Regions from separate parts of the Homo sapiens genome. Here regions 2 and 3 are each linked to region 1. The links come from fine-mapping of genetic effects on gene expression. A gene starts in region 1. Each other region holds a variant in brackets. All regions are shown on one strand. Distances are between the middles of the regions.

Region 1 (2,760 bases):
TAAAGGGAAGTGAGGTGGGAGCAATGATATTAATGGTGAAGAACTGGACTGGGATAAGTTACAAACATGCTTGACTTTCCCCATAAGGATTACAGAAGGATGTTTCATTCATTCATTCATGCTGTGAGACAGCCTGGGGATACTCATCTTAAAGCACAGTCCTTCCCCAACAGTCTTAGGAATAAATCCTAGAGTGGGCATCTAGCCCAGTGGTTACGGGGAGCTTGGGTGGGGTGAGTGGAGTAGCATCTTTGGGAAGGGTTCCTTCCCCTGGAAGGTGTGACTTTGTGAGCTGAGTTTTAAAGGTTGAGTAGCAGTTGGCAAATTCCCTGGAGAGAGCATCTCAAATCTTTTGTGCTGAAGAACCAGCCATTTTTGTTCCCAGTCGGCCAGGTACCAATACACTGCGGCGCCAGGTGTGACTCACCACGTGAGTCTGACAACACCCAAACTGGTTTATACTCGGTTCAAAGAGTCCACTGATCATGTGCTTGGATGTCGTGGCATTATTAAATTGCTACAAACGTTTACTCTTAATTTCTCTACTTGTTACAAGCTTTCGTTCAGCACAGGACCAGGTAGCACCTGAGGGGCACCTGGAAAGCAGATTGTTCCAGCCTGCGTTCTAACAAGGTTCCCAGGTGACCCTCGCACAGCATAAAGTTAAAAGAACTGCCCTAGGGGAAACGGGACTCAGTGCCAGGTGGGTTTGATCATTCGTCCATCTCAGTGCCATCTGCCATCTCTGCTTCCTTGAGGTCTAGAAAAGGGTTACATTTTTAAAGGTGATATTGGCCACGTCCCCTTCCAGTTTCAAAACTACATTTCCCCGCTGTTACGCAAACGTCTTAAGCAAACCCGACTGCAGGACAGAAAGTCAACACGGGAATGCAGCTTCCAGAAATTCTGATTAGCCTCCGTCTTCCGCTTTGATCTGGCCCCGCAGCCCCGGCAGCTCCGCTGACCGCGCTTCCTTCCCGAGATTGCTAGTCTACCGGGCTGCATTAATGAGATCCGTGTTGAGCCGGTTCCCGGGTCTGCTAAACATGAAAGGCACAGAAGCCCCCAGTCCCTTCTCCTCCCCTCTAAGTGATTGTTTAGTCTCTCTCTGCAGAGGGAAGAGTTAAATCCCCTCCCCACGCCTACGTGGGAAGACCTGGGGAAACACGCGGCCCCCTCCCGGGTCCGCTAACGAGCCTGCGGCTGCTTCGGGCTTAGAGTGGGCGGGGCCTGGTCGGGAAGGGGGCGGGGCGCTCCGCCCGGGCGGGGCCAGACGGTGTGGTTGGCGGAGGGCCAAGCTCCTGGGGGCGGGGCCGCGAGCGGGAGGGCGGGGCCGGCTGCGGGAGGGCGGGGCCGGCTGCGGGAGGGCGGGGCGAGGTCGCTGGGCTGTAGTCCCGCGGGCGAGAGCTGGCTGAGCCGCGGCGCGGGACTGCTCACCTCCAAGCGCTCGCGCGGGGATCGCGGCTCCTGCTCACTTTGCGGCCCGCTGTCCTCCTGCCCGCCCCGAGGGCCCCCGGCCGGAGCGCAGAGGGAGGGGGCCGCGCTCGCCAGCACCCCGCCGCCTTCCCCCGCCTGGGGGAAGAATGTGCCACCAGCTGTTCTCCGCTTGCGAGCGCTGCGCCCAGTAGTGAGGAACTTGGAGGAAGAAGAGACAAAGGCTGCCGTCGGGACGGGCGAGTTAGGGACTTGGGTTTGGGCGAACAAAAGGTGAGAAGGACAAGAAGGGACCGGGCGATGGCAGCAGGGGAGCCCCGCGGGCGCGCGTCCTCGGGAGTGGCGCCGTGACACGCATGGTTTCCCCGGACCCGCGGCGGCGCTGACTTCCGCGAGTCGGAGCGGCACTCGGCGAGTCCGGGACTGCGCTGGAACAATGGATAACTTCTTCACCGAGGTAAGTGCGCTCCCAGTCCGACCTGGCCTCCGGAGCCCAGGGAGAGAGGCGTCTGCCCACCACGCCGCGCGCCCTGGGTACTTTTTCCTAAGCCCTGGAAGGCGCAACTTTCTGGGAGTCTCCTGAAATCACCCCCCATCCCCCCGCGGAGTCTCTGATGAGTAAGCCCGGGCAGGTTTTGTTTCGTCCTGTCCCGCGCTCGCATTTTGCTCCGGGAGGTAGCGAAGGTGCGTTTCCGTTTGCGTGGGTGGCTGGCTCTCGGGGCGCCCTGGGACACCCGCGCCAGGTGAGGCGGCGCGCGCCGGGGCGCGGGCGGGGCGATCCGCCCGCTCGACTGCCCGGGTGCAGGAAGCCCAATAAAATGTTCAGCGGGGACCTGCCTTTCTCCAAGAAAGGTCTTGTCTGGTATTTCCTTTGCAAAACGTGCGGGCTTCCTGTGCAGGGGTTCAAACACTTCCAGAGGAGACGGCTTAATGAAGTGTGAGAAGGAGAGGCAAGGGTTTAATCGGTTACTTTGCTCGCCGAGAAGTGCTCTTTTAAGGCTTGGGATAACTCCAGACCCTGGGATCAAATGATCATGTATTTGTGTAGAGTGTCCATGCAGATTTTGAATTCGAATGTAAAGAAAATTCGTTTAGGGCAAACAGTGGCTATTTTAATAGATGAAACGGATGCCCTCTTTAGGGTCGTTGAGGGTGGGACACTGAAACTTAACTTGAGAACCCTTTTTCCCCCTTTGGGATCGAGACTTACTGTGGTTTCTTGGCTCCCTTTCCTTTCTTGGTTGTGTTTATTTAATAAATTCTGTTTAAGTTTGAGGTTTGAAGTGGCTCAAAGTAAACTTAGTTGACTTGAGAGAGTCTGATGTG
Region 2 (2,760 bases), 28 kb before region 1:
GGTAAATTGCACAAAATGAAGTAAGTGTTCAGCAAACGTCTTTAATGTTATGTAAGATTTTCGATTTTCCCTTGTATTGTAGAGTATGGAGCTAGATAATCAATAAATTATTTTGGTGGTCAAGAGTACATTAAAAAGGATCATCTATCTCTTGTCAAACTTTTACATGAGATAAACGAAATGATGAAGAGCTCAGTATACTCCAGATGTTGCTTAGTGCTTGGAGACTTTGGCTACAAATTCCTTTAAAATGTGAGTTTGCATGCCTTTGCAATTTTCTCCCTAACAAATGGCATTGATTCAACATGACTTAGGTTGCAAATACCAGACACTTTTTGATTACTTTCTTTAGTGTCACCTGGCTATCTTAATTGATAGATTAGGAGCAGCAGATCATCAGAGAAGCCCAGGAAATCTCACCATTTCTTTTTGTTTTCTCTGTCTAGGGATTCCAAGTCTTCTGTGTAAGGACATATTTAGAATTCCAAAAGGAAGAGGGGAAAAGAAAAAAACCCTTCAAAGTCACTAATCCAAGATCTTCTGATATTACTTTTAGAGTACTTTAGAGTACCTTTAAAGAAAACAAACTTTTAAAATTCCCCAAAGGACAGCAAGACTATTATTTCTGATAGTTGTAGACTTACTTAAACTTTCATAAAATATTTACGTTAAAAAATCTAAAAGGATGGGGTATGATAATCGAGTTTATTTTTATTTTATTGATCAGTTAATCAAAATAAAGTCCTCTTCAATATCCTTCAGACTAAAGTTTATGCTGACTTTTTGGATGAAAAAAATATATATAATCTTTCCTATCTAACAATATCAATGATATAAAATCATTATTGTTTTCATCTCTAATTCTTTAATTGTACTTATGTGACATATTATATTTACTGAAGAAGTCATCCAACATGGCCTACACATCTATCTTTTAGAGTTTTTTGGTAGAGGATATCTGTCATTCATTTGGGTGGCAGAATGAGGAGTCAGGGCATAATGAAAGGCTGAGTGCCCCGGCACTTTCATCTTTGCACTCATTTTCTGAAGTGCATTCCTTCACGAAATCTCAGTCGGCTCCTCCCTTCCTAAAATAACACTGTGACACTTCAAAATCTACCTCAGCCCTCCCCCACTACCCTAATTGCACATAAAACCACTAAGGGC[G/A]CTGTCAGGGCTGGCTACATAATTTATGGGACCTGGTGCAAAATGAAGATGCCTGACCTCTTGTTCCATATGCAGTGGGGGAAGTACCATTAAAAGAACTCAAGAAAAAGCTTTTTCCTTTCTTCTGTACTCTGTCCCTTCACTTGTCATAATGTTTTTTATTTGCTCTTTAATGTCATTCCAAGCTAAACAAAAAATTAAAATTTTAAATTAGGGAGGCTGAGGCAGGAGAATGGCATGAACCCAGGAGGCGGAGCTTGCAGTGAGCCGAGATCATGCCACTGCACTCCAGCCTGTGCGACAGAGCGAGACTCCATCTCATTAAAAAAAAAAATTAATTTCACCATTTTATTTATTTATTTAGAGACAGTGTGAGTCTTGCTCTGTCACCAGGCTGGAGTGCAATGGCGCGATCTTGGCTCACTGCAACCTCCACCACGCTCGGCCTCAACATTCATATTATATCGCACAATGCCCATTTTAAATGAAAATGTCGTGGCTCACGCCTGTAATCCCAACACTTCGGGAGGCCAAGGTGGCCAGATCACCTGAGGTCAGGAGTTCGAGACCAGCCTGGCCAACGTGGTGAAAGCCTGTCTCTAGTAAAAATACAAAAATTAGCTGGGCGTGGTGGTGGGCCCCTATAATCCTAGCTACTCGGGAGGCAGAGGCAGGAGAATCGCTTGAACCTGGAAGGTGGAGAAAGTGAAGGGGAGGGGAGGGGAGGGGAGGGGAGGGGAGGGGAGGGGAGGGAAGGGAAGGGAAGGGAGGGGAAGGGAAATGTTAGAGCATTTAACTCACGCAGAATCACCAAATTACACGGGAAGGGAAATGTTAGAGCATTTAACTCACGCAGAATCACCAAATTACACACTTCATTGTGCACGGATCATGTGTATTTTGTTCTGTCCTTACAAGAACTATGAAGGGCTCGGGGCGGTGGCTCACCCTTGTAATCTCACGGCTTTGGGAGGCTGAGGTGGAAAGATTGCTTGAGGCCAGGAGTTTAAAACTTGCCTGAGCAAGAACACAGGGAAATTTTATCTCTACAAAAAATTTAAAAATTAACCAGGCATAGTGGTGTCTGCCTGTAGTCCCAGCTACCAGGGAGGCTGAGGCAGGAAGATCATTTATGTCCAGGAATTCAAGGCTGCAGTGAGCTATGAGCATACCACTGCACTCCAGCCTGGGTGACAGTGAGATGCTATTTCTAAAAAGTAATTAAAAATTTTTTTTAATGAAAAGCATATTAGTTTGTTTCCATGCTACTGATAAAGACATCCCTGAGACTGGGTAATTTATAAGGAAAAAGAGGTTTAATGGACTCATAGTTCCACGTGGCTGGGGAGGCCTCGAAATCATGGCAGAAGGTGAAAAGGACGTCTTACGTGGCAGCAGACAAGAGAGAATGAGAGCCAAGCAAACGGGTTTCCCCTGTTATAAAATTAAATCTCTTGAGACTTATTCACTACCACAAGAACAGTATGGGGGAAACAGCCCCCATGATTCAATTATCTCCCACCAGGTCCCTCCCACAACACATGGGAATTATGGGAGCTACAATTCAATATGAGATTTGGGTGGGGACGCAGC
Region 3 (2,760 bases), 170 kb before region 1:
GGCAACTCCTCACGTAGATGCTTGGCAAGTAACAGTCAGAGACAGTGTGCTATTGTTCAAATGCACAGACTGGATTCTGATGAGCTGGATTCTGATGAATCTCAGTTGTGCTACTAACTAACTGGAATTATGCAAGTCTCTAAACTTGTGTTCCCACTTCTAAACATTGTGGGCAATAATAATATCACCTCCCACATTGGGCTGTTGTGAAGGCTTAAATTAGTAAGATAATGAATATGATAAGTTTAACATAGTACCTGGCACATTGTAAATTAATGAATAAGCATCACCTATTATTACCAGCATAAAAACTTACCAATTAAAAAAAAGGGGGAGGGAAGACGGATTTGAGTAATAATAAAATGCTCAGAAATAGCTCCAGTGGGACATTGCCTTATCCAAGCCAGCTTCAGCACCTTCCCTAAGTCCTTTCCCCATTTCCAGCTGCAAAGAAGACTTCAGAGTCAGAAGTTTCCACTAGCTCTGAACAAGGGTTGGCAGCAGTCTCAGGGCCTCCATCCATCCAGCCCTCATTGGCTCCCACCCACATTGTGCCAAGCAGAGTATCCACAGGATATGGAGTCATCTTCCGTGGTCCCAGCTGGATTTGATTGCGCTGTGATGACTTGGCTGTTGCAGAGGCTAGATTGAAAGCATGTCTCAACTTCACCTCTTGAATGCAATGCTGTTTATATTTGCCTAATATTTTTCTCCCCCTTGGGTTATTTGAAGATCATGCCAAACTTTTGTTTCTTTTAACTGGATAGAGTATTCTATAAAGATATTTTAAAGCAGTTATTCTCATCGACATTTTGCAAATCTGGAAGAGAGTTTTTATAGCTATACAGCCGTTCTCTCACCATGGCCTGGCTCCACATACAGCAAAGTGATCCTTCTAACCCAGATCACGCCCCCACTGTACTCCAAACCACTCACTGCCTTCATCTTAGGATGGAAAATAACATCCTCAGATGGTTTACAAGGACTCTGCAATGTCCCCTTGCTCCCATGTCATCTTCCTCCACTCTCCCCCTGCCTTTCTTGCTAGCCCTTGAATAGCCCCAAATATGTTCCTGCCTTGAGGCCTTTGCACTTGCTGTTCCCTCTGCCTGGAATGCTCTTTGCCCTACATATCTGCACAGCTCACTTCCTTCTGTTGTCATTTCAAATGTCACCTTCTCAGGCAAGCTTCTCCTGTCATCCTACCACCTTACATTATATTTTTGTTTATTGATTTATTAGATGGCTCCTGCATTACAATGTAAAGTAGGTAACACGATGGCCTTGGCTGGCAGGGCTCACGCCTGTAATCCCAGCACTTTAGGAAGAAGAGGTGGGCAGATCACCTGAGGTCAGGAGTTCAATACCAGCCTGGCTAACATGGTGAAATCCCGTCTCTACTAAAGATACAAAAATTAGCCAGGGGTTCTGAGGGGGCACCTGTAATCCCAACTACTCGGGAGGCTGAGGCACGAGAATTGCTTGAACCCGGGAAGCAGAGGTTGCAGTGAGATGAAATCGCACCACTGCACTCTAGCCTGGGCGACAGAGCAAGACTCTGTCTCAAAAAAAAAAAAAAAAAA[T/AT]GTCCTTGGCTTTATTCACCACTGAATCACCAGCACCTAGAGCCCTGAAGACACGGGTCTCAATACATATTTATTGAATGTGAAAGGACTGACCTCCAAGAGATTCAACAGCAAGCAGGTCTCTCATTCTGACTGAAGATTTACTCATCCAATTCATTCATTGCTAATGTCTTCTTTATCAGTCTAGTTATCATTTTTTTTAAGCGAAAGCAAGTTTATTAAGAAAATGAAGGAATAAAAGAATGGCTACTCCACAGGCAGAACAGGCAGTCTAGTTATCATTCTTAACTTTCTTGTATACTTAAAAATTTCCTTCTGTGCTTCCCACACATGACTCCAGATTTCTTTCCTCACCAATATTCTGGGATACTTTATATCACCTTCTACTCCCTGACCCATTTTTACAATCGTCTGCAGAACACTACTTAACAAATTGTACAAAGACATCTAGCCTTACAAATGCCTCTATAGATCAAAATGTTTTCCAGGGCCGGGATTAAGAAAAAAAATGTGGGCTGGACGCAATGGCTCACGCCTGTAATCCCAACATTTTGGGAGGCCGAGGCAGGTGGATCACCTGAGGCCAGGAGATCGAGACCATCCTGGCTAACACGGTGAAACCCCGTTCTACTAAAAATACAAAAAATTACCTGGGCGTGGTGGCACGCGCCTGTAGTCCCAGCTACTCAGGAGGCTGAGGCAAGAGAAACGCTTGAACCTGGGAGGTGGAGGTTTCAGCAAGCTGAGATCACGCCACTGCACTCCAGCCTGGGAAACAGAGCAAAACTTAGGAAAAAAAAAAAAGAGGCGAGGGGGAAAGAAGGAAGGAAGGAAGGAGAAAGAAAGAGAGAAAGAAAATGCTTTTGGTTGGGCATGCAGTGACTTGCACCTGTAATTCCAACACTTTGGGAGGGAGGGGTGGGAGGATCACTTGAAGTCAGCAGTTCAAGACCAGCCTGGGAAACAGAGAGCTCCTGTCTCTACAAAAAATTAACAAAATTAGCTGGGCATGGTGACACGCACCTGTGGTCTTAGCTACTCGAGAGGCTGAGGTGGGAGAATCACTTGAGCCAGAGAGGTCAAGGTGGCAGTGAGCCAAGATCAGCCATTGCATTCCAGCCTGGGTGACAGAGCAAGACCCTAAAAAAAAAAAAAAAAAAGAAGAAGAAGAAGAAAA

Alleles and levels. Positions count from the first base shown, and alleles are read on the strand shown. Sizes are in standard deviations (SD) of each study's normalised expression. Not every link is listed here.
In carriers of allele AT in region 3, the expression in monocytes after LPS of the gene that starts at base 1,391 in region 1 tends to be higher than with T alone (moderate effect, 0.55 SD a copy in Kim-Hellmuth 2017).

Evidence for each region. PIP is the estimated chance that this variant, and not a neighbour inherited with it, causes the effect. A credible set is the group of variants that fine-mapping cannot tell apart.
Region 2: its variant is the best candidate, but not a certain one, in a credible set for the expression of MYO10 in monocytes (TOPMed, PIP 0.85).
Region 3: its variant is the best candidate, but not a certain one, in a credible set for the expression of MYO10 in monocytes after LPS (Kim-Hellmuth 2017, PIP 0.80).

The regions. Positions count from the first base shown.
Region 1 is chr5:16,934,919-16,937,678 of GRCh38, reverse strand. MYO10 (myosin X) reads left to right here and starts at 1,391. Exons shown (of 41, transcript NM_012334.3): 1 at 1,391-1,891. The coding sequence starts at 1,871.
Region 2 is chr5:16,963,397-16,966,156 of GRCh38, reverse strand. No RefSeq gene overlaps it. Among named protein-coding and RNA genes, the nearest start is that of MYO10, 28 kb to the right of the region's middle. The variant G/A (reference allele first, on the strand shown) is at 1,168.
Region 3 is chr5:17,104,062-17,106,821 of GRCh38, reverse strand. LOC124900947 (a long non-coding RNA gene) reads left to right here. Exons shown (of 2, transcript XR_007058707.1): 2 at 1-794. Among named protein-coding and RNA genes, the nearest start is that of MIR10522, 51 kb to the left of the region's middle. The variant T/AT (reference allele first, on the strand shown) is at 1,584.